Linked DNA regions of Homo sapiens: regions 1, 3 and 4 are each reported to be linked to region 2. Evidence: microRNA targets listed by miRTarBase, many of them from high-throughput screens and not tested one by one. Region 2 holds a microRNA gene; each other region holds the end of a gene's coding sequence.
What was found. Region 2 holds the annotated microRNA hsa-miR-497-3p (CAAACCACACUGUGGUGUUAGA, at 4,449-4,470, shown strand). A microRNA usually pairs through its seed, bases 2 to 8, with sites in the 3' UTR of a target mRNA and lowers its output. Matches are read on the target gene's strand: a 7mer-m8 pairs with bases 2 to 8, a 7mer-A1 pairs with bases 2 to 7 and ends in A, and an 8mer does both.

Region 1: miRTarBase lists ADARB2 as a target of hsa-miR-497-3p. Seed matches in the 3' UTR shown: 7mer-A1 at 5,212-5,218, 7mer-m8 at 2,520-2,526 and 7mer-m8 at 2,479-2,485.
Region 3: miRTarBase lists MAMLD1 as a target of hsa-miR-497-3p. Seed matches in the 3' UTR shown: 7mer-A1 at 3,033-3,039 and 7mer-m8 at 2,992-2,998.
Region 4: miRTarBase lists THYN1 as a target of hsa-miR-497-3p. Seed matches in the 3' UTR shown: 7mer-m8 at 5,494-5,500.

What each region holds. Positions count from the first base shown.
Region 1 is chr10:1,177,096-1,184,792 of GRCh38, forward strand. ADARB2 (adenosine deaminase RNA specific B2 (inactive)) reads right to left here. Exons shown (of 10, transcript NM_018702.4): 10 at 218-6,274. The coding sequence ends at 6,098. Among named protein-coding and RNA genes, the nearest start is that of LINC00200, 21 kb to the left of the region's middle. RefSeq lists an enhancer at 7,361-7,697.
Region 2 is chr17:7,014,711-7,022,407 of GRCh38, reverse strand. It overlaps MIR497 (microRNA 497), which reads left to right and starts at 4,386; the gene lies at 4,386-4,497. It overlaps BACC1 (BPTF associated chromatin complex component 1), which reads right to left and starts at 7,626. Exons shown (of 6, transcript NM_174893.4): 1 at 7,530-7,626; 2 at 7,252-7,346; 3 at 6,533-6,634; 4 at 5,723-5,913; 5 at 5,394-5,498; 6 at 4,888-5,147. The coding sequence starts at 7,550. The coding sequence ends at 5,143. RNASEK-C17orf49 (RNASEK-C17orf49 readthrough) reads right to left here. Exons shown (of 8, transcript NR_037717.1): 3 at 7,530-7,697; 4 at 7,252-7,346; 5 at 6,533-6,634; 6 at 5,723-5,913; 7 at 5,394-5,498; 8 at 4,884-5,147. MIR497HG (mir-497-195 cluster host gene) reads left to right here and starts at 2,754. Exons shown (of 3, transcript NR_038310.1): 1 at 2,754-3,030; 2 at 5,020-5,339; 3 at 6,394-6,590. It also overlaps MIR195. RefSeq lists silencers at 265-404, 7,244-7,693 and enhancers at 3,680-3,849, 5,201-6,400, 6,813-7,313, 7,664-7,697.
Region 3 is chrX:150,509,208-150,516,904 of GRCh38, reverse strand. It overlaps MAMLD1 (mastermind like domain containing 1), which reads right to left. Exons shown (of 8, transcript NM_005491.5): 7 at 6,859-6,943; 8 at 2,732-4,901. The coding sequence ends at 6,903. Among named protein-coding and RNA genes, the nearest start is that of MTM1, 56 kb to the left of the region's middle.
Region 4 is chr11:134,242,824-134,250,434 of GRCh38, forward strand. It overlaps THYN1 (thymocyte nuclear protein 1), which reads right to left. Exons shown (of 7, transcript NM_014174.3): 3 at 7,452-7,520; 4 at 7,005-7,097; 5 at 6,344-6,439; 6 at 5,986-6,136; 7 at 5,459-5,661. The coding sequence ends at 5,615. It overlaps VPS26B (VPS26 retromer complex component B), which reads left to right. Exons shown (of 6, transcript NM_052875.5): 4 at 296-471; 5 at 2,115-2,257; 6 at 2,621-4,965. The coding sequence ends at 2,767. Among named protein-coding and RNA genes, the nearest start is that of THYN1, 6.7 kb to the right of the region's middle.

The DNA of each region.
Region 1 (7,697 bases), not on the chromosome of region 2:
TCACCGTGTTGGCCAGGCTGGTCTCGATCTCCTGACCTCGTGATCCGCCGGCCTCTGCCTCCCAAAGTGCTGGGATTCCAGGCGTGAGCCACCGCGCCTGGCCAGGAAAAGGTTTTAGAGCTGATTGTGTCCCTTCTTTGGGGTGGGTGGACACATTGTACAGTCTTGAGACCCCCAGAACTTTGCTTGATGAAAAAGGCCCAACAACCCAGGAAAGAACAATTTTACTGAATATTTTTATTTACTTAACAGAAACATTCACTTATTAGATATCACTGAAGTGCAATTTATAGAACTTAGAGGCAAATTAACATGTAAATTCATATTTTAAGGTTTTGGATTTTTTTTTACAAATATTACAAATGTACATCCATTGATACAATATTGCCATTCTATCATGCTTTTTATGTACATACCTTCAATTAGAATTACTATGTGTTAAGTTCATTTTGCTTACAAAATGCTGAAAACTAACGGGGCACACTGGGAGAGATTTTTTTTTTTTTACCGATGCATAAACTGCAGAGAGATAGAAATCTAGGGCCTGTGTGAAAAGAGGCACTGGGACCAGGTGATCTCGCCTTGGTGTTTAGGGAATGCTCATCCCTCCAACCTTGGCTTAGGATGATGAGTTGGGAAATAAAGTGTTCCTCTCACCAGGGTTTGATCTGTCTGCGGTTCCCGCAGGAGTGATATTGTTTGGTGTGAATCTCTAGAGGCCAGCGCGGTGGCTCATGCCTGTAATCCCAGCACTCTGGGAGGCCGAGGTGGGCAGATCACTTGAGGCCAGGAGTTCGAGACTAGCCTGGGCAACATGGTGAGACCCCATCTCTACCAAAAATACAAAAATTAGCCAATCTCATAAGCCGGTCTCAAAAAAGTAAATAGATCTCTAGAGATGTGGCCACCAGCGTTCCTTCTGGTGGGAGGTCAGAACATGTGGACACATTCAGGAGAGTCCAAAAATGACTGCAGCAACTCCCTGTGCACAAGGCATCAGGAACCCAGCGGGGCTCCCCCAGCCCCAGCATGAACCTGTTGTGTGGATCCCTCGTGGGGGGATGGTGCCTGAGACCTCCTCCTGGGTGGGGGCCACGGCAGCAGAACAAAGGAGCCAGGAGTTTTGGGACAGGGACTAACAAGACAGCAAGAAAGGGAAGAGGCGAGGAGGAGAGAAAGGGTTGAGAAGGGAAGCGAAGAGGCTGAGGGGAGAGTGAGCGGAGGGTGGTGCTGGCCGCCTCTCAGGCTTCCCAGAAACAGCCTGAGAAGGAAGCTCCTCTGTCTCCACCGCATCTCTGGTTGGTCCCTGTGGCCTCTGCTCCTGCCTCCTCACTTCCCCACCATCCTTCCTTCACTTTCTCGGATTCAGAATTTGTGGGAGAAGTTTGACGGGTCACCAGCAGCCCAGTGTTTCCAGAAACAGCCCTGCTCCTGCAGTGGCGAGGAACCCAGACAGCGGCAAGGCCTACACCGTGTCCTCCAGCCACCCGCCTAGCCCCACACAGTGGCAAAATACCAAAAGACCCTAAAATACCAGCGAGGCGGGGGGTGGTCTGTCCCTGCTAAGAGCTGCCTGGGGGTGCTACTGCCTCTCCTGCAACACAGGGCTTCTAAATTTCCACCTCCAACCGCGAGCTCTGCAAAAACTGCAGGCGAGGACAGGCTTTGGAGGTATGTGGGATGGCGGCTCCCTGACATGGACTAGGGGACTCTGCAGCCTCCCTGAGGGCCGCGGGAAGCCCACAGAGCCTCACCGGGTTCTGTTGGGTGTTATGAGAGGCGGCTGCAGCGATCCAACGGTAGTACATAAAAGGAAAGCCTCTCAGCTTCCCTTTGGTCTCTGTTAGAAAGTGATACTTATTGTATTTTGGGCCAATTAGTCAGATTATTTTATTAGAATGGCTTCTTAAAAAAGGGCATATAAGTTTCCCTAAATTAAAAATGTCTACTTTATGTACGTCTCAAATGTCTTCAGTTGTTTTAAACAATACACTATAGACACATCTTGAAATTTATTATCTAAAAATAGGATTTCATCAAAATAACTATTCTGGGCATTGATATCCTCTGTATTTACTGTTTATGGCTCTCCAGACGTGATAAACATTATATCCAAAAAAAAAAGCATGCGACTTTGTTGATAAGAAAAGCTCCCTGTGAAAACAAAATGAGATGGAGAAATATGATCTGTGTGTTTCTTTGAAAAGGAACCCAGCTTGATGTTTCTGAGGAACAGGACTCATCACAAAGTCAGCATGGTGTGATAGATATATACAGATGTAAAGAGAATCACAGGAATGGAAAGGAAACAATAGCTATCGACCTGCACATCCTTTCCTCAGCAAAAACAAAACCCACAGAAACCCTAACTCTATCCCTTGATATCACACACGGCTGCAAAACCGGGGCTGGAGGTGGACAGCGGAGGCTGCCTGGCCGCGCAGCCGTTCCCTGCGCCCCGTCCTGCAAAAAGGCCAGAAACCACCAGACACTAACTTTTTGACTAAGAACCAGGCCGGAAACCACATTGCTGATCTTCCTGATGGGAAAGCAGTGTGTGTTTTGGAGGCAGATAAAGGTGGTGCTGGTTTTATGAGGACTTTTGTAGGGGCCTAAGCAGGCATGAATATAGACTACAGAAAATCTGAAGCAAGGGTATGAATACAGACCACAGAAAATCTGAAGCAAGGGGCTTGGCGGTGTCAGGTGGTGGGAAGTGCGAGGAAGCCAGACGGTGATTTCGAGGTGGACTTGGAGGGGCGGGCCTGACTTCATCAGCCCCCCTTGTGTCGTGCCCAGCGTATTTTCAGGGTGACAGAAAGTGACCCATCCCCTACTTGTGTCGTGCCCAGCGTATTTTCAGGGTGACAGAAAGTGACCCGTCCCCTACTTGTGTCTTGCCCCCTCACTTGGAGGGGAATGGGTGGCCACTCTTAAGACCAATTCAGTGGTCAAAACTGCAGGGCAGACATGGCCTGAAAGTGGTGCTGGGATGTTCTGACCTGGACCTGAGGGCGAAATCCTCAGGCTTCAACACGAGCCCTTCCATCTCTGCAGAGGTGGCACAGCCCCTCCAGGCACATCCAGGGCTGTGGGAATCCTGGGACCTGGGTCTTCCAGGCACACCTGGGGCTGTGGGAATCCTGGGACCCGGCCCCCCCAAGCATAGCTGGGGCTGTGGGAATCCTGGGACCCAGCTCTTCCGGGAACTCTTGGGGCTGTGGGAATCCTGGGACCCGGGTCTTCCAGGCACACCTGGGGCTGTGGGAATCCTGGGACTCGGCCCCCCCAAGCATAGCTGGGGCTGTGGGAATCCTGGGACCCGGGTCTTCCAGGCACACCTGGGGCTGTGGGAATCCTGGGACCTGGCCCCTTCGGGCACTCCTGGCACTGTGGAATCCTAGGACCTGGCCCTTCCTGGCTGGGTCAGGCCCTGCCAGTTGGGAGCAGCCTGCGTGTGGCGTGATCTGGTGTGGCGTGCCTCCTGCGTGTAGGGTCACCCTTGACTGCCTCGACTACCTTCTCCTTTCACTACCCAGGGCCTGGGACCCTCCTTTCCTTACGTGGGGTCCCCTCTGCAGCCCACATCCCCTCTGACAGATCCCTCCACGGAAAGGCTCCGGCACCTCAACCTCACTCTGGCTGCATTGGAAACTCTTCTGTCGCTATCGGCCTTCTCTGAAGAGCTTTAATCTCTCCTTCCATGGAGTCTCCTGTGGACTTAATACACGAATCCATACACTTGTACTAATGGGTAGCATGGAATTAATGTGTGGCTTTCTCCAGATGTGGATGTTGATATTTCAGTAAAGTCTGAGTTGTTTCTGGAAGGTCAATGCCTGAGACAAAACGAATCCCAACCCCCCAGCTGTGGCTTCATGATGCTGGCCACTGGGTGGCCGAGCGCTTTCCGAGTCCCGTGAATCAGACCCTGCGTCTTCCCTGTGACAGTGAAATCTGCTTACAACACAGGCCCCCTCGCTGCAGAAACAGCGTGATTTGGAGCCCACTGGGACAAAGCATTATATGCTTCTCTAGCCAACATCTCAGATGAAGGTGATTTGAGGCCTGGGTGGGAGACTTCAGCCAGGAGCTGGCCGTGCTCCCACGCATTCAGGGGAGCGCTCACTTCTGACTGCTGCGAATGTCTGAGCCACCCATCACCTCTCGACTCTAAGTTCTCTAAGCTTCATCCTAGTGATGTCAAGTTACCAGAACTTAATAGAAACTGGTCGTTTGAGCTTAGCTTTTGCACTGAATTAAGATTTCATTTATTTTTGTGATTTTTATAAAAGATTAATGTGAGTCCTTTATTTGAAAAAATGTTCTCGTATCTTTTGAAACTTTATCTGGAAGAAGTTGTCTACTCCAGTACCTGTTTTCTTTTCTAAAAGAACTCGAGTGATAAATTTGGCCTGATTTTAAATCCCAGGAAAAGTTTCTTTTTCCATACTAATATCTCTACTTCTTATTATCTTGTAACAAATAGCTACAACTCAGTTTCATTTCTGCCTTCTCATTATGATAACTGTAATTTATAGCACTTGACTATGTACAGCACAATGTTATTCTTGCACTTTCTGGGGTGGTCAGCTGGGATTCTTTCCGGGAAGCCCACACCCCAGAGGTGGACACCACCATGCTTTGCCGTCTGCCATCACTGTCATGAATTTCAGAGATGGATTTTTTAAGTTGGAGAAATGAGAGACTGGCTATCTAGCATGATGAATGTTAGAAATGAGTTCTCGGAGGTGAGATGACAGCAGCTCGAGGTACATGGATTACGTAAAGATACTTGGAAAAGAGCCTGACCCCGTATGAATACAGCGCCTTGGCTCTCAGGGATGATGCTGTGGGCTAAAGCCCCCATGTCCCATCTCCACTGTGAGCTGAAGGTCTCTGGTGTTGGAAGCCTGCTCTGAGGGTCACAGAATCCTGCCTCTTACATTTTTTGACAGCTGAACTTTTTTGGGGTCTTGTCCTGCAAGGTGTTGATTGGAGAATCTGAAAGAATAGAGAGCTGGTAGCCTCTCAAGCTGAAGGTAAAGGTTGTTTTGATTTTATTTTGTGCTTGCTTTCTAATGAAAATTTAGTTAAAAAATCAGAATTTGATCAAAGACTTGGTCTCCTTATTACCTGGTAGGGAGGTTATAGGGTGGTAGCTAACCCTTACACAACCCAGACCTCAGTGGCTCTTAGTATCGGCCACCATAAACCAAACGCCATGACGGACTGAACAGGCATGGGCCAGGTGTTTCCGGGCTCCCCACATCTGCAGCACGCGTGGGCCGGGTGTTTCCAGACTCCCCACATCTGCAGCACGCGTGGGCCGGGTGTTTCCAGGCTCCCCACATCTGCAGCACGCGTGGGCCGGGTGTTTCCAGGCTCCCCACATCTGCAGCACGCGTGGGCCGGGTGTTTCCAGGCTCCCCACGTCACAGGTCTTAACTCTGCCTCGCAGGGGTTTTGGAAACTGTTCCTTCACTTTGTGGGAATGGCTTTCGTTTCTCTGGTTCTATTTTAGGTGTTCGGTAATGTCGTACATCTTAAATCTTTTTTGAAAGGAGGTGGAGTATAAAAACCTAAATGAATAGTGAAAATAATAGAGGATTCTTATTGGTTTCTCTGGGGCTGGGGTGGGCATGGCTTTTCTCTTCATTTGTGGCTTATCTTCATGTGCCCCCTCAAGCTAGTGAGACCCCAGCATCACCAAGAGGCGCACGCAGGGGTGGGGTGCAGGGACGGGGCCTGAGGCTCACTCCTGCCTGGTGTCGTGTCGGTGCCTCCTTCCAAGGCTGCAGCTAAAACCCCTTTGCCTGAATGGAGCCCCTCCCTCAGACTCCACAGGAAGAGTCGGCGCTAACTCAACAGTGCATGTGCCCCTGGGTGTGGGGGACAGGGTTCTGGGGCCAGCGATCTGGAAAGAGGCACGTTCTGAATTTGTGTTGTTGCTCGTCCAAACATTGCACACTCGCGTGTTTCTGGGACACCAAAGTAAAACGAATGCAGGGAACCGGCCGACCCGCCACGTCGCCCCCCAGACACGGTCCCATCCCTCCAGCGTCCCGCTCAGCTCCAGCAGCCAGGAGCCCGCAGCCTAGAGAGTCAGTAGAAACTGCTGCTGCTCCGGTGGTTTCCTCACCCAGGTGCCCAGGCCAGCCTTCTGAAAGGCCTTGAACAGCTGCTGTTTCACAGACTGGTAGGTGTGCGCCCCCAGCTTGGCCTCACAGTACATGGAGGGCGTGTCTCCAGGGCTGGGTGTCCGTGTGCTCAGCTGCGGACAAGAAGGAGAAAGAGCCAATCAGACACCAGCAGAAAAGGAGCTTCTGCTAGGTGAGTTTTACATGCCAGGCATCAGCTCCTGGCCTTGGCCTTCTGCCTTTCTTTCTCCCACTATTACAGAGAGCAACTGTGACCAGGTCCTCTGGCAATTCCACAGGAAACCTAGTCATCAAGGAAACCCGCTTCATCTGAGGTGTGAATGATGAATGAGCGGATAAACTTGACTGCTACTAAAAGTATGAACACTGTGCAGGGGCTCCAGGCAGGGTTGGGGACAGAGGGGGACAGTGGGAGCTAAAACAGCATCACAGTGGGCAGGGAGCAGGCTGGTGAGAGTCATGTTGTCGGCTGAGCAGGAGGATGATGGAGCTGGGGCGTTTCCTCTGTTAGCTTTCTGAGGTCTGCCAGGCAAAGCTTTGCAGCAACACAAGACAGGGATCAAATGCAGCTCTGATACCCCCACCACGGGGCAGGGAGGCCAGGAGGGAAGAGGATGGGGCCATGGGGGAGCTCCAAATCCCACAGCGGGTCTTCCAGGGAGGCACTCACCGGGGGGTCACCTCGAGCATGTGCAAGAGGAGAGGGCCCTTTTGCTCAGCAGGACAGCATCGACGCTTCCCTGACCTTCCAAGTCTCCAGGAGAAGGGAGACCCCGGCAGTGCCCTTGAGCGGACAGGACAGAGGCTGAGAGCTGCAGGATGCTGGGCGTCTCGGCCAAGCTCAGAGCTAATATGTGCAATTCTGAGTGTCCTCTAAGTTGGCTAAAACGTTTATTTTAGGCATTAGTATGCCTGCCCTCCTCTACCAGTTGACAAATCAACACTATTATTCCTGCTTGGATTAAAAAGTGTGGAAAAATGAGAGAGGCATTTTTTATGTGTTGGCTGGTTTTTCTGTTATTTGTTGTTTTTGGTTACAGTCTATGCTTTGGAAATGCATACAGATACAGATTTTGATTTAAAATCCAGAAATATTGCTGTTATCCCTACTTGTGAAGGAGAAATTTGCTCCTAATTGTGGATGTCGTGGAAATGCTTGGGCTTTGGGGTTGGGGAGAAATTCGAATTCTGAAATTCATTACCTGTGAAATTTTGGGGAAATTACACAATTTTTCTGAGTGTCGGTTTCCTGATATCTAAACCGGGAATAGTATCGACTTCAAAAGTCCCCAGGAGCTGCTTCTGGGACACCCCGAACAAAGCAGGTGGTGCCGTGCCGGCTCCGTCAGGGGTTCAGCAATGAGCTCCTTTCCTGCTTCTGCAGCTCCAGCCTGGTCTGGGGGCGGTGCCTGGGGTAGCAGGGTCTCAAGCCTACAGGGGAAACGCTGCTGGCCTGGGCAGCTGGGAAAAGGACATGTGATGGGCGCTGTGTCGTGCATCTCCCTCCCTGCAGACCAAGTGTTGGCCTCTCCCAAG
Region 2 (7,697 bases):
CCGAGGTGGGGGTGGAGGGGCGAGAGACGCTCGGGAGACCTAGGCGTCCGGCCTCTCTCGCTCCCGACTCTCTTCTGGGTCCTTGTAGGGATCCAGAGAGATGGACTCCCGCCCAAAGCCCGCTTGCTTTCCCCCAATCCCAGCTCACGAGGGCCTCGGGCACCCGCCCGTCGGCTACGCTTGGAGGCTGGCGGGACGCCGGGGTCCAGCGCGGCAAGTAGGCAAGGCTCGGCAATGTGCGGCTCCTTCCACGAGGGGGCGGCCGAGCACTGGCCTCGCCTCGCCCCTCGTCTCCACCCGGCCTGGGGTGCGCTCAGACCCGGGCGCAGGATCCATTTGGTCTGGGCGGCTGAAACCTTTAGCCTCCTCCCCTTTGCGCGGGTTTATTTTGCACCTCTGTCTCCTAGGAGGGGACTAGGGCTGGGCGGAGGGAGCTAGAGTTAGGAGACCGAGGGGACTTTCCCCTCAGGCTGGGGTTCCTACCCGAGGTGAGAAATCGCGGGCTTTAGGAGCCAGGGGAATGGGTGGGACAAGAAGCGGGACCTGAGCCTGGGAACTCCGGGTTTTCTTTTCGAATTAAGCTAGACACTGCTACCCAGATGTCTTTGGAGGTGACTTTTAATTGAACATTAAAATTGGGTGGGGTAAACGAGAAGGGAAAACAAGGAGGAGGGAGAGAGGGCAGGAGGGGGCTTAACCACCCTAATTTGAAGTCCCTGATCTGAGAGATGGGCATGGATCACACCCTCATATTTTGTTTCGGGAGACATTGCGGGCAGGCAAGGCAAAGCTCATTTGGAGAAGGGGTGCTAGAGCTGAATCCAGCTGCAAGGCAGAAGCTCCCCGGATTTGGGCTGGGGAGAGTGTACAGTTGGCCAGGAATGGCCGACCATGGTCCACGGGGCTGGATATCAGGCCCGGGGCCCTCCCCTTCAGACCGGAGTGTGTCTTTATTTGAATGCATGAAAGAACAGCTGAGAAACCGGGAACTGGGAAATTCAGGACGATGAGGTGGCTTTGACATGTGAGGGTTATTTAGGTCTCTGCCCAGCTTGGAGATGAGAATTAGACTAGGGGCTCTCCCTTTGGCATCAGGATGGAGTATTATTTGATCAGTTGTGGGGTGTCTGTTTATTATGGGGTGTTGATTTGATTGTGAGCACCGGTGGCTGCATTCAGCCTTTGAGGCCTATATGGTAAGTTTCAGGTATGGGGCTGACTTGGAAGTTACATTAGTTCTGGGGGTTCTGACACCCACAATTTGGAGATTGTGCTCACCTGTGTCATCTTGGACTATCAGCAGAACCAAAGTACTCATGCTGATTTGGGGGTGCAGTCTATTTTGGGGTGCCATCTAAGTTTCAAGGCTCAGATTAGATTTGGGGAATAAGTTCAATTTGGAGTTTTAAAAATTAGTTTGAGGTGGAACATTATAGGAAGCTGGGAGCAAGTTCGAAGCTTTCTGTGATTGGGGGTCCTGGGAGGGGGGAGCAAACTTTTATATTTGAGTCTTGTGGACACTCACGTTCCACAAAGTGGAAAGACGTGGGGTATTCCTGTGTATCCATGGATACCCAAGAAGCTTTTTCCCCAGGGGAGAAACAAGGTGAGGGCCGCGAGGACAGGAGACTAAAGTTCTGGGGTGTTCTTATTTTGGGGGTGTTTTGTCACTCTGGCTGCTTTTGGTGAAGCTAAGGGATAATCATAAGGTGAGACTGATTTGGGAGTTCACTTAATTTGGACCCTGGTTTGGGATGTCTTTTGCTTATAGTGCCCTCTCACCCCAGATTCTAGAAGTTTCTTTAGTGAACCCCCAAATAAGCCCAGGATTTGAAGGGAGAAACTTGGAAAGGGTGTGGTATCTCCTTTTATTATTATGTGGCTTGAGGGAGAAGAGAGGGAGAAAAGGCGGTTTCAGACTCTGAATCCCAATTTCTTAAGGGAGCACCCCTTAGTTTGGGGGAAGTTGGAGAAAAATGGGGTGTCCCTTGGCCAAGTGGGCACCCCTGACCAGGGCAGTGCTGTTGGAACTGTGGCAAGGAGGGGTGCTGGTGGGGTACAAGGAGGTGATTCTTGCACCCTGATTTTCTAGGATGAGCCCCAAACAGAAAGCAGACAGAGGACTGGGAGTGTGGGTGAGATGGCGGGGAGGGGTTCCCCACGGCAGCCGGGGCTACAGGGTAAGCCAGGCCAGCTCTTCGCGCCTGGGTCCCTTCTCTCTTCGGCCCTCCTCCCCTCTCTCCCTCCCACCGCCCACCCCCCCAACCCAAGAAAAAAAACTGCCTGTGCAACAGCAATGGCAGATTCCAATCCTCCAGGCTTTCCTAAACCACCACGGTGACCAGCCAGGGGGGAGGGGAAGGGAGGAACGGGCTTTCCTGCTTCCTTAAGACAGGGGCAATGAGCTTGACCTCCTGGCCCCTAGCCCTTTGAGGAGTGATTCCCCCCGGTCTGGAAGCCAGGTGTCCTGGACCCTAGCCCCCGAGCGGTGGGGGGGGCCTGGAGAGACGGGGAGGAGGAAGGAGGGAGTGACTTCCAAAATTGGCATCGGGACAGAGCAGGGCTGGCGGGAGGCAGGCAAAAGACGGAATTTTCCTGAAAAAACGGGGGTATCTGAGGACCCCAAATTTGGGGAGCTAGTCCAGGACCGTCCTCCCAACATCCTAGATTTTTTTGGGATTTTTTGGGGACCCCGGGACCCCTCTAGATGGGGTGAGGAATGTAGTGTTGGGTGAATCTGACTGGGGCATTGCAGCTGCCTCTCCCGCCGAGTTGGAGACGGATGGGCTGGGACGGGTTTTGGGGGGGTGTCCCCAATTCTGACTGGGAGTGGAGGAACCCCTCCTGAGATCTCTTGTGGGGGTGCCCCCTCCCCAGGGCACTCCCCAGTCCCTGAGCCAGCCGAGAGGAAGGAGGCCAGCGATGCGACTGGGGCGGCTCCTTTCTCCTGCACCCCAAATGTGAGGGATGCACCCTAAATTTTGCTCTTTTCAAAATAGGGGACCAGGATCTCAGGGGAGAGTAGCTGAGGTAAGTGGGGAGGGAAGTGTCCTCTGTTTTCAGGAGAGACGTGGCGGTTGGGGGGGAGGTTTGGAGGTGCGTGCTGGGGTGGGGTTGGCTTTGTCAGTCTTGGAATTGGGGGGATGATTGGAGAGGCTTTCTCTTATACCCCTAAACTGCAGCCCCCCAGACGGAAACCAAAGGCTGAGACCAGAGAGCCCCCCAACATCCCCAGCCGTTAGGATAGTGTTTAATTTCTCTTTCACCCCCCACAAAGGCTCTGCCGAGGTAGGAGCTGGGGGCAACTGTTAGTTTGGGGGCTATGGAGGGTGGTGGAGGAGCAGGAGGCCTTGGCAAGATTTGATGGAGGGCAGATAGGGGTGTCCGGGAGGGGTCTGGCATCTTCGGGGGCCTAAAAAGACTGCTTACATACACCACCTTGGATCTTTCAGATTGCTAAGAGTTTTGGGGGGTGTGTCGGAAGAGGGGGTGGTAAAAGATGCGATGGGATATAGGAAGATAACTTCTGGATTTTAGGGGGTCATATTTTGATTTGCAAAAGGAGTTTTGGCCCTTGGATTTTGCTTTCTGAGGGGTGTTTTTAAAAAATCAAGTCCTGGACAGGAGAAAAGGGCTGAGGGAAGGCCTGGAGTTGGGGGTGGGGAGAGGCATGTTTGTCTCAGCTTAAACGTGGCTCTCTGGGGTGGGCCCGCCTGCCCTGGCCTGGTGGATGGGCTGATGGAGGTTGCTGTGGGGGCCGGCTCGGGTCCTCAGGGGCCCTGGGGAGTGGGAACAGCACTGGGGGTTGAATACCTGGCCCCCCAGGTCCAGATGGCCCTCTTCCTGGGCTCTGCTGCTCCCCTTCCCCCTGGTCTCCATTTCCTGCCTTTGGCCTCCATCTTGTGGCAGGCCCAGGGCCCAGGGCGACTTCCGGCCCCCCTCTCCCAACCATGTTCCGGCCCCACCACCTCTGGACTGCCAACTCCCAACCCTGCTGGCCTTGGCCCTCTGTCTCTCCTTGCTTTTCTCTTGGGTTCTGACCCAGGGAGAGGAAGGACGGACACAGGAAGCCTTGGGTCCCTGCCCTTGCTGAGACAGGAGGCAGTGTGTTGGCCCCTCCAGTCATTCCCTATTTCTTCTGCCTCTGACCCCACCCTAGGGATCCCCTGAGCTGAGTTCCTACAGAGGGAAGATGGTCCAATCTTACTACACTGTGAGCTCATCCCCATGGTCCGTCGCCTTCCAGTTGCCTGCTCAGCCCGTCCCTGGTTCCTCCCAAACGTTTTTGGGGGCCATGTTTGCCTTTTAAGGCTTCTCTATCCCCCCGCTCCTGGAGGTGGTGCTGGGGTCTTCCCAGCACTGCTATGTGCTCTCTTCCTTTCAACCCACCCCGGTCCTGCTCCCGCCCCAGCAGCACACTGTGGTTTGTACGGCACTGTGGCCACGTCCAAACCACACTGTGGTGTTAGAGCGAGGGTGGGGGAGGCACCGCCGAGGCTTGGCCCTGGGAGGCCATCCTGGAGAAGTGACACAAAAAACATCTGGGGCCTTGTGACAAACTTCTTGCCAGGTGGGCAAGGAGAGGGTGGGGTATGTAAGCACCCCTCTAAAATCTCCAGGGCAGTTTCAAGAATACTGATGGCCAGAGACCCTGGGAGTAAGTTCTGCCTCAAGAGAACAAAGTGGAGTCTTTGTTGCCCACACCCAGCTTCCCTGGCTCTAGCAGCACAGAAATATTGGCACAGGGAAGCGAGTCTGCCAATATTGGCTGTGCTGCTCCAGGCAGGGTGGTGAAAACTACCGAGGAGGGGCTGAGCCCCCATGGGCCGAGGAGAGAAGAGGGAACAGGCCTCTCCTGCTAATAATGTTAAGCAGACAGCACGAAGCTGAGAGGGAAATCTTTATTGTTTTCTGTATAAAAATGTCCATCAGATGAAGGTCAAAGGGGTTGGGGGCAGATGCTTATGCGGGAATAGCGAGGTGGCAGCCCCAGCAGCCTTTCAGCCCTCTCTCGTGCAGGCCTTGCTCGGAGTCCCAGGAGATCCACAGGTCCGGCATGAACAGTGAGAGGTCAGAGGTGGAAGGCTCAGCAGGAGAGGAGAGGAGGATCAGCAGAGGTCATGAGAAGGCCAGAATCCAGGGTCAGGCTGTCTGGAACAGGAAGTAAAATGGGCCGAGATGGAGCGAGCCCCCAGTGTGCTTCCAAGGCCACTCCCACCTCCCTGAAACACCCTGCTACGTACTGATCCAATGCCCTGCGCTGTGTATGAGAGCACCTTCTCTTCTGAAACCCCTATACAAGGGAGGGGCCCCTGCGGAGACCGTGCCCTGCCATCCAGGTGAGCCCTTTCTCCCCAACCCCGTCAGCTGTGTGGGAGGAGGAGGACTCCTACCCTGGTCGAAGTTGAGTTTCTTAGCTGGAGGAGTTTCTCCTAGCCCTTCAATATCCACCACGTCACTGTTGGCATCGGAGTCGTTCAGAGCACTGAGTGTCACATCTGGGAAGGGGGCATAAGCTAGGTTCTAGGTTCCCCTGACAGCCTCTCCCCCAGCCCCAAGCTTCCCAAAGCTTTGTGCCTCCTCTCCCCTCCCCTCTGCCCCTCTCTGGGAACCTCCACAGGGACAGGAAGAGAGACTGACCCTTCTTTGACCCAGGCCCAATTCTCTCACTAAACCTCAGATGGGACCTTTAACCCCTAGGCAGCAACTCCACAGCCCTCACCAGCCTTCTGTTTCTTTATGGGGGGACCCCCGGCCTCAGGGACACTGGAGCTGCTGGGAGGAGGGGCAGCTGGAGGAGGTGACAAGACACCAGATGCCACCTTCTTGGGCCCTTTCTTGGGTGACTCAGCTGGAAGGGGGATGCCAGAATCTTCATATACCTTGCGTTTCACAGTGGCCTTTATCTGGGCCCTGAAGAAAAGAGAGAAGAGGTTAGGAAAGGAGTCATCAGAGAGACTAACAGAAGAGGGGACGGGAGGGGAAGGGGTTCTGGGAGTCCCTTCATAAGAATCCAGGTCGGGGCCCCAACCCATTGGTAGGGTTCTCACTTTCTCGAAGTTTTACACTCACTCAGGATGGATGGAGTGTGGAGAGTGGAGTCCCTGAACTGAGTAGTGGGAAAGGCCCATCTCCTAATTCTCTTCTGGGAGAGACATCAGGTAGAGCTTGGTGATTTACAGGTGGATTGAGATTTACTGATCAACTAGTTCAGGGTCACCATATCCCTGGAAACACTGCAGTGGGGTCCTCAAACATTTATATAAATAACCAGGGGACTTCCATCATCAAATACAATAACAGCATCTCAGGCAACCTAAATTCACATTCTTGGAAGGATTACCACAGCATTTTAGGAACTTCTGACCAACTGTGACAATTCTATTCTTTCAGTCCTCAAGGGGATTCTAAAAAACTAGTGACAAAGTAGGGAAGCAGCTGAGCTGGAAAGGAGTTCTGAGGACGATGGAACCTTGGGTAAGGAGGAAGAAGGCTGCCCACCCGCCCTTTTCTGGCAGCCACCCTCCCTCACACTGTCCGTTCCTTGATGACACAGCTGATGTGATTAAGATCGTCCCCAAATCGCTTCACAGCAGCCCTCAGCATCTCTATTTCCGTCTCCGTCCACTTCGCACTGTCAGAAGGGGAGAGGGGGGATAGCAAAAATGGGAGGGGGGGTGTGGAGCCCGCCCACAGGCTATGCATCCCACAGCCAACCAGCCGCCTCCTTCCGATTTCTGGGACCCCTTCCACGGATGCATAAAGAGGTCCTCCGTAAGGGGAGGCGGAAAGCTCTTGAGGCCCTGCGGGAACCGGGAGGACCCCAATCACAAGAAATCACAACCACCTCCACCTTAGACACCCCTTTCCACCATCAACGTTAAACGGCTGCTGTACACAGCACACTGAAACCAACTCGCCAGGAAGGGCTTTTCAAAACAGACCCACCAACACAGCCTGCAGCCGTCTGGGGGAATTCCATGAACTGGGGTGGTTGGGAGTGGCGGTGGTTTGTGGTCGACCCGTTCGCAGCAGGGAGAACTGTGAAACAGGAGTCTGGGCTATGGGCCTGTCTGTATTTTTATCTGTCATTCATTCCCTCACCCAACGATCATTTATTAACACCGACTCTGTGCTGTGCCACGCACAAAGGGAAACTAATGTCTGTCCCTGTGCTAGAGAGGGTCCGTGTCTGTGACCGAGTCCAAGCGCCCGCTCTCAGCGTCCACGTCCCAGTCCGGGCTCACGTACCCCGCAGGAGAAGAGTCGGCCACGGGATGCAGCTGCATCGTCAGCTCCCCGAGCTTCGTGAAGGCGGCGCCGGCCGCCGAGAAGATCTCTCCGACCTGGGGGCGGGGCAGCGTCACGGGGGGCCGGCGCCCGCCCTCCCCGTCCCGCCCGGAGCCCCTAGCCCCACCCCAGGCTCGGCTCCCGCCCGCCCCCCGCCCGGGGCGGAAGAGCCGCGAGCCAAGTGGGGGGCCCGCCCTCCCGTGGCCGCCAGGGAGCGCTGTCCGCGAGGGAGGTCGAACCTTTGTGGACGCTGACGTCATGGCCCCGCGCGCCTCCTCACGGAGACGCCGCCGCCGCCGCTACACGCGAGCCGGGACCACGGAGAGCAGGGAGACTGAGCGGCTCGGGCCCCCGCGCAGGAAGTCCCGCCCTCCCCGCAGCGGATAGGCTCAACCCGGCGGCTCCCC
Region 3 (7,697 bases), not on the chromosome of region 2:
GCTGGGGTGTTGGGATGCTGAGGTGCTGGGTTGCTGGGATGCTGGGATAGTCCTTGGATGCTGCGGTGCTGAGATGCTGGTCTGCTGGTCTGCTGGGGTGTTGGGATGCTGGGATTTTGGGATGCTGGAGTGCTGCAGTGCTGCAGTGCTGAGATGCTGGAGTGCTGGGGTGCTGGAATACTGTAGTACTGGTGTGCTGGAGCGTTGAGATGCTAGGGCACTGGGATGCTAAGGTGCTGAGATGCTGCAGTGCTGGGGTGTTGGGATGCCGAGGTGTTGGGATGCTTAAGTGCTGGGGTGTTGGGATGCTGGGGTGCTGGAACACTATGGTGCTGGGGTGCTGGAGTGTTGAGATACTGTAGTGGTGGGATGCTTAAGTGCTGGGGTGCTGGGTGTTGGGATGCCTAGGTGCTGGGGTGCCGAGATGCTGGAGTACTAGTGTGCTGGGATGCTGAAGTGCTGGGGTCCTGAGATGCTGCAGTGCTAGGGTGCTGAGATTCTGGGCTGCTGGAGTGTTGGGGTGCTGGGATGCTGGAGTGCTGAGATGCTTGGACAATGGGGTGCTGGAATACTATGGTGCTGGGGTGCTGGGGTATTGAGATGCTAGGGTACTGGGATGCTGAAGTGCTGAGATCCTGGAGTGCTGGGCTGCTGGGCCACAGGCTCTTGAATCCATTCGTCTGCCCAGGGGAAGAAACCAGAAGATAAAGAGCTAATGAAGGAGCTTTGGTTGAGAGGGAGGAAGTAATGGAAGGAGCAACATCTTGTGGAGGAGCAGGAGAGAATGGACCTCAGGTTGGGAGAGAGGGCCAGGCTACAGGCCAGAGAGGCAGAAGGATTCCAGCAGAGTGTGGGCTCCAGGAGCCAAGGGGAAACAGGTTTCTGGGAGGAGAGAGTCCAGTACTGCTGAAGTGGCAAGTCCGCTGAGGACCAGGAAGCTTCATTTGGCTTTATGACCAGGAGGAATTTGGAACTGTGACTAGAGTACTTAGGGGGAAGGAGGCAAGACTGGAGCCAGATTGCTCTGGGTTGAGGGGTGAGTGGGAGGTGAAGCAGGGCACTGTCACTCCTTTGAAGGGTGGCAGAGAGCTGGAATTGGTGCTGGATGGGCTGTGGGGTGACAGGGTCATGTGGAAAGCCCCTGGGGGGCACCTGGAAAAGGAGAAGCTGACAGTACAGTGAGAGGACAGCTAAGGGAAAGCAGAATGGCAGAACACGCACTGCCAGGAGGAATGAGGATAGGGTCAGGAGTGCCAGGGGCAGTGAGGCCAGCCTGGGGTCAGGTGGCAGGACGTGTCCAGGAAGCTGGTCTGCACTGCAGCCCACACTGGCTCAGCCTTGAGGTTCCCTGTGTGGTTGGGGTAGGAAGTTGAACCCTCTGGGAATGGAAGATGGAACCAGCTCTGCGAGCCAAGCTCAGCTTTTATCTGTGGGTCTCTGAGGGCTGGCAGAGCTGAGTGGGGACAACTGTGATCCGTGAGGCTCTCAGGTTGAGGTGGCCCCTCCGGGAGGGCTTCATTTTCCCAGCGGGTAGGTTCTAAGCAGCAGTGGCTGGGCAGGTGGGTCCAACACAGAGCCAGAGAAGGGTGAATGGGCCTCCTGGCACCCCACCCCTGCTGCCCCTGAGCTCAGTGATGGAGGGGGACAGCACAGCTGAGCCCAAGTGCTTTGGTGTGGCCCTGAGGGAAAGCTGCAGCCTGCCTGGGGCCTGGCATGGATGGGACACTTGAGGCAGAGGGACAATAGTGGGCGCTGCAGTGAGGCTGGCTCTTGGAGAGGTTTCCTGAGGAGTGCTGCCTGAGACGGGCAGGGAGAACAGAGACAAAGTTGGTGACAGGGAATGAAAGCTGACTGAAGGACTTTACCCAGACCTATGAGGATATCTCTCTCAGCAGGAAGCAGGAGGGGACTGTGTGAGGACTGGCCAAGAGCTGGAGTGTTGGGAAAATGACTCTTTCTCCGACCCCTCTGTCCTAGCTCTGGCCCCTGGACTGCGGAGGTCTGCTTCCACCCCCATTGGTCGATCGTTGTCCCTTGTCACAGCCATTGAGAATTTTGGCAGGGAGCATGTTCTTAGAGCATTTTTAGGCTCTGCGGGACATAACAGCTCTGCCTCAGAGCACATGCCTTTCTCAGCTCCTGAAAGCCACTGATCAAATTGGAACATTTTGTACCTTAGGGATGAGGATATCAACTCTCCCAGCCACTTAGAGGGATAAATGTGATGATGCATTCAATTGTGACTACATCTGATCCCAACTGTTGCTTCAGCTGCTCTCCTATAGCACATGGCGGGAGGCGTGCATCCCAGTAGCTACCTCCCCACTTTTGGGGAGATGTGGTTCCATCCATGAAACCTGGGTACCCGCCTACCAGGTCCTGGCCTATCAGGTGGCAGGGTCTGGTCAAAGAAGGGCATGTGTGGTCTTCAGCAAGGGAGACAGGACGGTGGTGCAGAGAGTCTAGACCCTCAGGGCAAGTCTCCCCCACACCTGCTCCCGAGGCAGTTGTCTTTGTGACCTCCCATCCCCCTCTGTTTCATCCTCTATAAAATGAGGGGCTGAGCCCCAAAATAACAGGCTTCTTTGCCATGATGCAAAACTGCTGAATCTTTCTTTCTGACACACAAGGCATCGAGCAGCCTCTGAAAGAACCAAAGCCACTAGCAGGCTTCCTGACTTGGGTTTGTAGGTACTGAATACTCCCTTGAAAAATAAAAACATAGAGGCACTTTTCTCCTGGCTGTTTATTACAGAACGAAGAAAAAACACACTGGCTTGAAACAGACGCCAGATTTCAAATGTAGAGGTGAAATACGAGGTGGCAATTAAAATGTGATTACAGAAAGTCTGGACACTGAGAAAAGTTTACAGGACAGTGGGTGTGGGTTTTCTATAACAGACACTTAAATATACATGACGATAATTGCAGATAGAAACCATCAAAGACAAACCCCAAATCAACTAATAATGTTTACAGATGTTCCCCCCCAAACCACAGAGCCTTACATCAAAACAAATACTGAAAGGCTTTAAACCAGGAACAGCTCGCCTTAACCCCACGAGGGTGCACACAAGCTGGGCTTTTTCTCTCGGTCTGAATGGTAAAGGGAGGAGGATACTCTAGCTCCTCCAGGTGGATTGCTGAGACAGGGCTCGGCTCACACACTGTCTCTGCGCCTCTCCCAAATCTGGAGAACTCTCCCAGCCTCCTGGTAAAGTGTCTCTGTGGGGCACTTAACGATAAAACGGCTTCTGCTGTAAAGCTCATTAGGAAAGAGCTAGCGGAGACTGAAAGGTTCGCAAAAGAGATTAAGAATCACACAAGGCAATAGGATTTTTAGTGAACATAGAAATAAATGGCCAAGTGGTTTTCTATTTGGCATTTGTCAACTTGCACAACAACTCTTGGTCATATCCACATTGCTCATTGCATTAAAACCATAAGCGACTCAGCCACCTAGCTTAACAAGGTATCACTGGAGCAAACAACACGGTCTGCATATTTGTAACATTGTATAATAAACACAAAACAATGCATAGTAAACACAACTCTACTGAAACAAAAGCCGTCGCTTTATTTACAAAGTCACAAAATGAAGTATAAATACTTCTGTCATTAATGTTTAGGAAAACCATTTACAAAATTTTCAAATATGTACACGTAGCTTGAAAAATCACCAGCTTTCCATTTTGTCACAGGTAGAGAGAGGGATAAGCATGGGCTGACAACACCACTCAAATTGTAACGGGAGACAACTGCGGGTATGGATCGACACCACTTCCTAGAGTGATGTCACCATGGGGGTTTCTATGGGCATCCTGCTCAGATTTAAAGTGCCCCAGCATCCTGGGTGACTTGCCCAGAATTCTGGGCTGTGGCATTTTGAGCAGCAGCATGCTGTTCCAAAATGTCGTCGATCAGCCTCAAGTTGCACACCCAGTCTTCATCTGGGCTCACACAGGAGCCTTTCAAGAGAGCTTCAATGAAATCTACCTCATTGCAGTCAGGTGACGAAATCAGATCATTTAGTGGGGGTTGGGGCTGGCGCAAAAAGTCGGCAGGTGGCAGCTCAGGGGGAATATCCGTTCTGTCGAACGGACCTGGGAACTGGCTGGCAGCAACGGCAGAAGCAGCAGCAGCGGTGGCAGCAGCAGCCACATAGCTTGGTGGCTCGATGCCCTGTATGGGGCTCAGGGGACTAAAGCTGGCCATACCCTGCTGGAGGAACTTGGTGGTGTTTGCTACAGGCACCGGGCCCTGTACCGGGCTCTGCCTGAGGCTCTGGCTGCCCAGCAGGCTGAAGCTGGGGTTGTTGGCCAGGGGCACTTGTGTTCCCATCGCAGCGGGCACTTGTGCCTCCCAATCAGATGGCCTCTGAAGGCAGGCCTGGCCAGAAGGTGAGTGCTGCTGAACGCTATTATCCACTTGGCTGAGGGGTGTTTTCCCCGAAACTGCTGTGGTCACAGCTGCTGCCGCTGTGACCCATGCAGCATTGTTGAACGCAGTGGGCATTCTTGGCACACTAGGCCGTCTGAGCTGGTGGGGACTCAAGGACTGGGTGCCCAGGGAGCTGGGACAGAACCCAGGCAGGGGCACTTCTGGTGGGGTGGCCTTGGGACTCTGCATATGCTGGCAGACAGAGTCAAGTCTGCCCAGGGGAGTCTGGCCTGAGTGTGAGAGGATGGGACACTGGGGGCTGGAGGTGAAAATTCCTTGCCGCTTCCCCAGAGTTGGTGAGATCACTCCCATGCCCTCGCAGCTCTGGTGCCTGGTGAGTGGGATCATTCCTGGACTCAGATTGTTCTGAAGAAGCCCAGTTCTGGGTGGCATCAAGTGCTTGCTAGATGGGGGGCTTGCCTTGATCCGGCTACACTTGGAGGTGACTTGTTCTTGGACGGCTACATACAGAAAGAGAGAAGTGGGGATGAGTTCCAAAGGCATCCTCGACTTGGGCTGTGGCCACCGGAGGGTAGCTCCTGGCCCAACACGGACTTCTCACCTCCCGCCCTTGGCTCTCTACTGAGCTCCCCCCTGCTCCCCAGTTCCTCGCCATTCCCCTCATTTCTCTGCCCTCAGCCTGGACTGCAGTTCTTCTGGGAAGCTGCCCCAACTCCCTAGGTCTGTGCTCACCAAGAGCAGATCACACTGGACTGAAATGCCAGCTGATTTGTCTCTTCAAGAAAATTGGAAGCTCCTGGAGGTCAGGGTCCATGTCTGCTTTTACACTCAGTGCTCTGTATGCAGGCCTGGCACTGCCCACCCTTTGACAGGTGGTGCATATTTTGTAGAAGGAAGGAAGGGGCCAGGTGGGGTGGGCTGGGCTGGTGGCGGGAGCTAGCTCAGCCTCTTAGATTCTCTACCCGATGGATGTGACCTGGGACAGCAAGTGAGTGTGGTGAGTGAGTGCAGACGGTGCTTTGTTCCCCTCTTGTCTCATAGCCTAGATGGCCTCTGAGCCCAGATCTGGGGCTCAGACAACATTTGTTCAACTGAACGGTAATGGGTTTCCTTTCTGAAGGCTGAAATCTGGGAGCTGACATTCTGGACTCCCTGAGTTCTGAAGAGCCTGGGGATGGAGAGACACGGAGCAGAAGATGGAAGGTAGAGTCCCAGGTGCCTAAGATGGGGAATACATCTCCCCTCATTGTCATGAGAGTCCACTCTAGCTGATATCTACTGTGGCCAATATCTACCGGTACTTTTTTGGGGTGGACACTGAGTCATGCAGCAGTCTTATGGTTTACCCAAGGTCAGGTAGGGGAGACAGTGCAGTCAGAGCACAAGCCCAGTGTGTCTGACCCACCCAAGAATCCATGCTCGTATCTACAAAAATGATTTTTTCTCTTGTAATGGTGCCTAGGTTCTTTTATTATCATGGCATGTGTATGTTTTTCAACTAGGTTACAATCTGGCCTTATAAGGTTAACCTCCTGGAGGCCACCAGCCTTCCTGAAACTTGTCTGTGCTGTCCCTGCAACTGGAGTGTGCCTGATGTGGCACTCCAGCCTGGACAAGTGGGACACAGACTCCGCTGTTATCAGGCCCAAAGATGTCTTCCATAAGACCAGAAGAGCAATGGTGTAGAGGTGTCATGGGCTACAATAAAGATGCTGACCTCCTGTCTGAGGGCAAGCAGCCTCTTCTGGCCCTCAGACAAATGCTGAGTGTTCCCAAGACTACCCTCGGCCTGGTCCAATCTCATCCCACTGGTGCGTAAGGGTTGCTGAACTCATGACTTCTTGGCTAGCCTGCAACCTCCACGGAGTGGGAACTACATCAGGCATTTTGCTAACTGCTGTATCCTAGGCCAATAAATGTTGATCACATTTATAGCTGCCATGGTAGGGTGGGGACCCCTGCTATCTATCTGTGGAGGCTCTGGGAGCCCCTGACACAAACTTTCTGAAGCAGAGCCTCCCCAACCCCTTTTCCATTCCCTATACCTGACAGATGGCCCAGGAACCCATTAGAAATGGAAGGTCACTGCAGCAGTATGTGAATGTGCGTGTGGGAGAAGGGCAGGATCAGAGCCCTGGGGGTGTGGCAGCCCCCAAGTGATTCTAATCCAGATCCTAGGGTTGTTTCCCTGTCCCATTGAAATAGCTGCTTTAAGGGGCCTGACTCAGGGAAATCAGTCTCTTGAATTAAGTGGTGATTTTGGAGTCATTTAGACCAGGCCTTCAATTGGGATCCTGCTCTTAGAGTTGGATGAATTATTTAACTGATTTTCAGATCTCCTCTTTCTCAATGCTTTCAGAAGCACAGTAACTGCTTACTCTGAAATGAATTCTCACCCCACTTCCACATATGCACCCCTTGCCCACCCCTTTGGGAACACTGGCCTTAACTGCTTACCTTCAAATGGACTCATCTGTTGGGAGATATATGCATTCTGCCGTTCAGGGGTCATTGCCATAAGACCTGATCTCTGTTCCTCTTGCTAAACAGAAGATGAAAAAGACAAATTAGATTACAGCTACCAATTAATAATTAGCCTTAGGATCGCTGCGTGGGGACCTAGGACTTGGCTTTGGTGCAGCAGAAAGCATGAATAAACACACCAGCATACACTCGCATGCATGCCCCACCCTCTCGAGCAAAATTCCACAGGTATAAATAAAGTAAGATTCTGCACCTGGGTTAAAAACACAACTGCAACAGCATAGAATGGGGCAGGAGAGACAGAACTTAATAGCAAGAGCACACAGAAAAAAGTTTTAGGCATTTTGGATGTCCATCTGCTCAGGATGGGTCAGCAGTGAGATGCGGTCACCAAAAGAACAAATGTAACATTAGGCTGCATTAATAGAAGCAGAGTATGTAGAAGGAGGGAGGTGACAGTCCTATGCTAACTCTGCCTTGGCCAGACTATACCCACAGGAGTCTGGGCATGCCAGTCTCAGGGAGACCCAGACAGACTGGCTGCATTCAGAGGATGGTAAGTAATGAGAGTGGGGATTGGACTTCAAACTACCCAGACAAAGAATGGCTGAGCAAGCCAAGGATGCTGTGGCTGGGGCAGAGCAGACTGTGGGCTATGTAGTGGTGGATACCTAGCCTCTGCAGGGCTGTCATAGGGAAAGGACATTGAGAAGAGGACTGAGGCTTGTTCCTGGTGGTCCTGGCATGAACGGCCAGATGATCACATGGTCAGGTGGACACAGTCTCCAACACTGGGAGTAGCCAAACACTTA
Region 4 (7,611 bases), not on the chromosome of region 2:
AGGTACTAAAGCAGCTGCATGCTGGGGAGATAGAGCAGATGAACAAACATGAATGGGTACCATGCAGGAGAGACGTCCTTTGCGTGGGATGTGGAAGGGACAGAAGCTACTTTAATCCAAGTAAAGACCGCACTGGGAAACAGTTCAGCCACAGCCATGTGGGCAGTGATGGGTGAGTGTGTCCTGCAACTGGACGTTTAACCAGCACGCTTGGCCGTGGCGTGTGCGCTCTACTGAAACAGAAAGGTCTGGCCACAGTACCAACATCTTACTTTCTGTACTTTCTGTTCCCCAGATACCACTTGAAAGATGTCATTGTAGGGAAGATATACTTCCTGCTGGTGAGAATCAAAATCAAGCACATGGAGATAGACATCATCAAGCGAGAAACGACGGGTACAGGCCCCAACGTGTACCATGAGAATGACACGATAGCCAAGTACGAGATCATGGACGGGGCACCAGTGCGAGGTGAGACTCCAGGCCCAGGCCTCGGCTACCACAGCTTTTCTCCCATGTCCTGCACAGAATTCTGGAGGGGCTTGAGGGATTACACTGTCAAAATAAGATGTCCTCTTAACCTGTAACTTCTTAATCTCTCAGTTTACACCGTGGGTGGCCATAAGGAAGAAAAGGAAGGCTGAGTGTGTAGAACTTGAGGCTACTATCCCATCTTCACCCTGAAAAGTTGCACTTAGACTTGGATTATATATCGGGCTTGTACTGAAGATTGAACCTCAAGCGTCACTTTGGAAGGTCCAGGTTTAGCAGATGTGGTTTGAAAACGTTTCTGCTTCTTCCTGTTGACATTCTGGCATTCTCTGCTGCTCAGGAGCAAGGGATGCATGCACAGCAGCCTGTCTGTGACTTGGCTCTAGCTCCGATTTATTTTCTGAATTCACTTGTCAGGTAGAAAGAGCACTACTAGATACTTCAGCCAACACCACCAGGTACCCAGATAGCCCTGGAATTTGCTGGAAGCATCCTCTCCCAGCCCCAGGGAGCTAACATTACATCTGGGTTAGTAGAGCTGGAAGCCCTTTGTCATTTGGGGACCGTGATTATCTGGAAGAAGCAATCATTTACATTCTTCATTGGCTCTTTAGCCATCCCTCAGGAATGGCGAAGACTCTTCATTTTGAAGTGCATGGTGCTTCCAGGGTTTTATTGGCTTATTCCTTTTACTCCCACAGGCTGTTCCATGTGGAAGGAGGAGCGCCACAGATTTAGCTGCCTGCAGCTCTGGGGACACGCGGGTGTTACCATGCCAGGCCCTTGGAGGGTTGGGACCAAGCTCTCCTGACACTCTCTGATGTCCCATTTTGTCACTGGCTGTGCAAATAGAGCCAGCTGTCATTTTTCCTGTACAAATGAAATGGGTCACTGAGAATGCATGTAAAAGAGCAGATAATGATAAGATGGCTTATATTTAGCTTTAGACCACATTATAGGTTTGGCCTTTCTTGGTAGAATTACTGCCCTAATTTTGTTCCACTGATACTAGAAACGGTCTGATGTTAGAGCTGGAAGGGATCTGTAGTATCACGCAGTCCGATTCTCTAATTTTCCACATGAGAAAATGAAGGTCCAGAGGAAGCAGAGACTTAACTCACAAATCAGAAAAGCGGTTCTTGCAGAACTGAGGCCATAGTGAGGACTTTCTGCTTTCCACCATACCACCTTGCCAGTCCACACAAGAGGGAGGATGTATTTTGGGGGGCATACACTGAGGATGGAGAAAGATGGCATCAGAACTGCTGGGTGAAGTGGTGGCTTAACTGGACTTTGACAGCTGCCTTTTGAAAACCCCAAAACTAAACACACTGCATGTAATCAAAAGATGCTTATACTAATAATGACCTGTGCTGTTCCCACTCAGTTGCTCTCTGTTTTCGAGAAGACATGAGAAGCTGCAACATGACCTGGAGTGGAACTGGAGAGTCACATTTTTGTTTCAGCCACCTGCTGGGCAGCAGAGCGACTGCACCTTCCCAGAAGGCTGAAGTGCTCGTGTGCTGCACTCCAGTGGCATCTCTGCAGTGGTCAGAGTGACCTGGTATAAGGGAGAGGGCATCACCTTGCCCCCTGTGCTGACTCCTGCCCTCCCCCTACAGGAGAGTCCATCCCGATCCGGCTCTTCCTGGCCGGGTATGAGCTCACGCCCACCATGCGGGACATCAACAAGAAGTTCTCTGTGCGCTATTACCTCAACCTGGTGCTGATAGACGAGGAGGAGCGGCGCTACTTCAAGCAGCAGGTGAGGGCCAGGCTCCTCCAGGCCCCGATGCCCTTGGGACAGAACAGGAGGCTCTCTTTCCTATGGAAGGTCAGACTCCATTTTTGCCAAGAGGTGGGAACATTAGGTCGCCCACAATTGCACAACAAGAATGAGGATTCTCACCTGGCCTTAGAGTCTGCTTCCTCGGGCCTTCTCCTGCAACCACCTGCCCTTTTGGCCCACACCAGGGACAGGGAGGTGCTGGCAGCTGCTGCCTTTGGTGAGAGAGAAGCAGAGGAGGTCCTTGCCCGAGATTCCCCACGTCAAAGTTGGGAGCCTCTAGGAAACCTGTCCCCATGCCTCCCTCTAAGGTGTCACATTGCCCCCCTTTCAATTCTGCAGGAAGTGGTGTTGTGGCGGAAGGGTGACATCGTACGGAAGAGCATGTCCCACCAGGCGGCCATCGCCTCACAGCGCTTTGAGGGCACCACCTCCCTGGGTGAGGTGCGGACCCCCAGCCAGCTGTCTGACAACAACTGCAGGCAGTAGGCCCCCAGGGCCGAGAAGATGCTGGGCACCCACCCAGCACCCCCATCTACCAACACCAGCGGCTGGGGGCGGGGGCGGACCTTGTGAGGCTCAGTTGACCCGTTACTTGCAACCTGAAAACAAATCATGTTTTTGACTTAAATTCTTTTCTCTGGAGAACCCAAGGGGCTTGGGGTGGGAAGCAGTCTCTCCTTGGGATTCTGCGGCCGATGTGGGATAGAAGAGGTAGCATCCTGGAAGCCAGCCTCTCTGGGGAACATGAGCCCCCTTCCTCGGGGGGCTGCCTTGCGTCTTAGAGGAGGGAGAGCAGAGAGCACGCATCCTTGGCTCCTGGCTCTCTGAGCTTCCTGATACAGGATCTGAGCATGTCCCTGGGATTCTGAGCTGCCAACAGGGCCCTGGGTAGTCACATCTTGTACTCCCCTTTGCTGTCCCGGAGGTAGTGGCAGGAGTTGGGCCAGCCCCCACTAAGTGGCAGGGGAAGACTCACGATTGGGAAGCTACCTCTTTGGGAATCTTGGATGTGGTGATCTCAAGTTCCCACAGGCCACCTCCTTCTGGCCACTCACTGCTGGGACCCAGGCACCTCCCTTCTCCATCCTCTCTGGATTGTCAGTAATGTCCTGGAACAGAAGCCTGTGGGATGGCCTTGGGCACGGAGAAGCCCTGGGGTCAGTGTCGTGCACGGATGGCGGCAGTGTTGAACCCAGGAGGCTGAACCCGGCCCACCACGGAAGATGAGTGCATGGCAACCGCCTGCCTTCACGTCGCTCCACTTGGTAACCCCAAGGTCTGGGCTGTTCTAGGTATTGCTTCACGTGCCCCAGCAAGCCCTTAACAAGAGGGCCTGGTTCCCTGAAGAACCAATCCCAGGAAGGGGCCTTGATCCCTCCGCCTTGCTGAGAGTGAACCCTCGTCTCTCCTCACCCTCCATTTCATTTCTGGGAATTGGGGCTTAGTTTCGAACCTTTGGCAAGGCTGTTCTTACTAATGCCCAAGCCCCTTTACCCCTCTCCCTATAGGTTACACAGGGGAGACCAGGGCCTCGGCAGAAGACTGCTGCCACACTTCCGAATCATTCTGCTTGCCAAATAGGTCATCTTCACCAGTTGACTGACCCAAGTTTAGGACCATTGGTATCGTGTGTTTAAAAAACACATATAAAAAAACTCTTGTGAATATTCTTGTTATGCTAGAGAGGAAGGTACTTCTCCCTCTACGGCTCTGCGCTGGGGCCTATGGTAGTAAAGTTGTTTACTGTCCTTTTTCTGCTTCCCCTGGAAATGACAGGCATTACTCTCCCATTGGCCTCCCTTCCCTTTATAGAAAGACCAAGCAGGCCCCACTGGCCAAGAGGTACGGTATTTGGCAGTCTGAGTTCTCAGTAATTTGGAAAGTTAAGGAGTTGGTTCCTGTGTCACCTTTCAGTTAGTGTGGGAAAGGAAGACTTCTGTTTTCCTGAGATCAGTGCAGTCTCAGGCCTTTGGCAGGGCTCATGGATCAGAGCTGAGACTGGAGGGAGAGGCATTTTGGGTAGCCTAGGAGGGCGACTGGCGGCAGCAGAACCGAGGAAGGCAAGGTTGTTTCCCCCACGCTGTGTCCTGTGTTCAGGTGCGACACACAATCCTCATGGGAACAGGATCACCCATGCGCTGCCCTTGATGATCAAGGTTGGGGCTTAAGTGGATAAGGGAGGCAAGTTCTGGGTTCCTTGCCTTTTCAGAGCATGAGGTCAGGCTCTGTATCCCTCCTTTTCCTAGCTGATATTCTAACTAGAAGCATTTGTCAATTCCTTTGCCTCCCAACTGACAACACACGTTCATTTTCCAACCTTCCTAACATCTTAAACCTTTCTTCTGGGAGAACTAGAAGACAGAATTTGCTTTGATTCTCTCAGGCGCTGTGCACAAGCCAGGTCTTCTGTTTTCTCTTTCTTACTCTACCCACATTCTTGCCTTCTCTATCCAACTGTGAAAGTGAGGGGAGGCTCCTGTCCCCCTCTCTTAAGGTCCCCAAACCTGGGAGTGCATAGGTACTAAATCAAGCAGTGCAACTTGTAATTAAGCAGCTGCAGTGTTTACATGTTTCTTAATGTGTCATCTTTTCAATGGCTGTATTAAAAGAAGAACGTTTGTTTTAATGGTCTTTCTGATTAAAGAAAGCCCCTGTGGCTTTGGAGGCATTGTGCCCACGGTCCACCAAGTTCTGTGGTCTCTTCCGTCTTACATGGTCCCAACTCCGACACTCAGGGAAAGACAGATCCCTGCCCTGATTTCCCTACATAGTGCCTGTGCTCTCACTGTATAGCCCCGGGTGAAAAATGATGAATACTTTATTAGCCACCTGTTTGAGACAAGCACATGGCTGAGAAATGAATTCAGTTCTTATCCCTATCTGGCAGTTTATCCAGAACTGCTCATGGGATGGTTTAAACCTCTGTGGGACCCAGAAGATGAAAGGGGCAGGTGAGCAAGGCTGGTGTAGAAAGAAGAGTTCATTCCAGTGGGTGTTACCAGACTGAGGATCTCAGCCCTACGTCATGCAATTTGCTACAGAACTACTAGTGATCGTAAAGAAAGAAGGTGGAGGCAGCTCTGCATCTGGGAGCGGCCAAAGGAGCCCGCCTGGAGGTAAGAGGTCTGCAGTGGGGAGTATCCCACTGCACTCAGTGTGGTTTTAGAAGAAAAGTTCTTCAACTTTGATATTTTATTGAAAAAAGTACACAAAAACCACTGAGGTACACAAGCCCAGGTAAGCATACCAAGCAAGCCCCCTCACACCTTTTGTCTGAAAAAAGCTTGACTTCTTTGCAGCAATGTCTCGCCCATTCCAGCAGCAGTATCTCAGTTAACTTGGTTCCTTTTCCTCCAGGCTCAAAACAAAATCAAACTCTTCTACAAAAAAAAAAGGGAAAAAGGAAGGATTAGTTTTTAATGTCCCCTCTTGAACAGGAAAGTTGTGCCAGGCACAGGTACATCTTACATGGTACTAAGGCGAGCAGTCATTCGTTCAAAACTATTTACCAGGTGCCAAGCACTATAGAGTACTGGGTAATAGTAACAGGTAACTCTGGCCACATTCCCTCCCTCATGGGTGTTACAGGTGAGGATGCTGACTGAGAAAGGTGAAGTACCATGCCCAAGTTTAATCAGCTAGTAAGTGGGAATTCATGAGGTCATTCTGGTATATGGACAATAAAGGAGAGGGCCCACTCTTACCCTGGGTCAGGGGCTGGATTGATAATCTCTGGCGAGTGAAGAGAACCATATTTTTTAAGGGGCCACCAGTAGCTTTGTGAGCTTGATGATAGGATTTGAGCTCAGCCAGGGGAATGAAACGTTTCATCATCCGAACAAACTGTACATCCACCTATGTGACAACAGTGTACATGACAGAAAGACGTGTCTAGGCTGACTGTGCCCACTGTATTTTTAACCGCCCACAGGAAGCTCCTATCTCAGTATCACCTCATCTGAGTAAGTGCTGGGCCGTGTACCTTGACCTACAGTCACCCCAACCGTCTTCTTCCCCTGGTTCATCCTTCCCCTGTCATGAAATAGAAAGCATAGTCTTTACCATGGACCACTTAGGGTTGTCCTCTTTGCTAGATGGGTCATAATGGGGATTGTTTTTCTCAAACTGTGTGTGGTCTGGGTAAGCCTCTTTCACGATCTGAAACCAAAACAAAAGCTTTGAATCATCTGCCTGCAGTCAGCTCCACAGCCAATCTTTTAATCCATATCCAACTTTCATTTCTTCCCTGCACATTCTTAACCCATCTGCCTTGCTGTACAGCCAATGGGGGCTCAGATATTTGGAAACAATATATAGTCTAATATATAGACTAGGAAATCAACTCTGTTTTTACAAAAGTCTTAAAAACATGCTCTAAAAACAAATGGCAAAGGTTATTACTGGTACCACTGTTTTTTTCCCCTCTGCACAGTTAATAATTTTATCCTGATAAGCTTGGAGGAGCTATCATCAGGCCTGTTTTCGAGTGAGATCAAGACTTAGAGGTGGAGTGAAGTCTGTGCTAGTCGGACCTGAATGAAGGCCTGCTTTGAGTTATCAGATAGGAAGGGGCCAGGGCAGTTTTTCCCTATTCCTGTAAAAGGGGGATGGGGTGGGGGGGAGTGTACTTTTTTGTTGCCTAATTAAGGTATATCCCTTTATATCTACTTAAGTTAGTCTCCCTGGAGGAAAAGGGATTCACACCAAAACCTGCCCAACTAACCTTCATGAGTCCTGCGATGCCTGGCTCTTTGCAGTTGCTATGGTAGAAGAAGGCTTCTTCTCCCAGCTTCATGGCTCTAAGGAAGTTCCGAGCCTGTCCCGGGAGAAGAAAGAGTAACTATCCTCCCACCAGCTGGAAAGTACTAGCTTTTAGCAGAAATCAAGTCTGCTTTTAATAGATGGGTGATTCTTGTCTGCAACTCCTCAATTCATTAGAAAGTCCTTCCCCTTTGCCAGGACACCCAGACTTTTACCAGGACATTGGCCAGAACACAGGCCAATTGAAAATTTCATGCAGAGTACTTAAGGCATTTTTTAATACATTATCAGGTTTGCTTCTGAGAAAAAGCAACCTTGGCCAAGAGGTTCTGCTACTGAGTACGTCATGAGGAGGAGGCAGGCATTCATCCCACCTGGGTCTCAGGCGACCTCCTCCTTACCCTCTTACCTGGTAGTTACGAACACCATCCCAGCATGTTGTCTGTTTGGGCTGTGCTTTGAGATCCTCAATGCTGAACTAGGCAAGAGGAAATAAATTCAATCATTAAACAATCCTTGGCCAGTTAGTAAGCACATATGGAAGCAGACAGTTCCTTCCCCTAAAATGA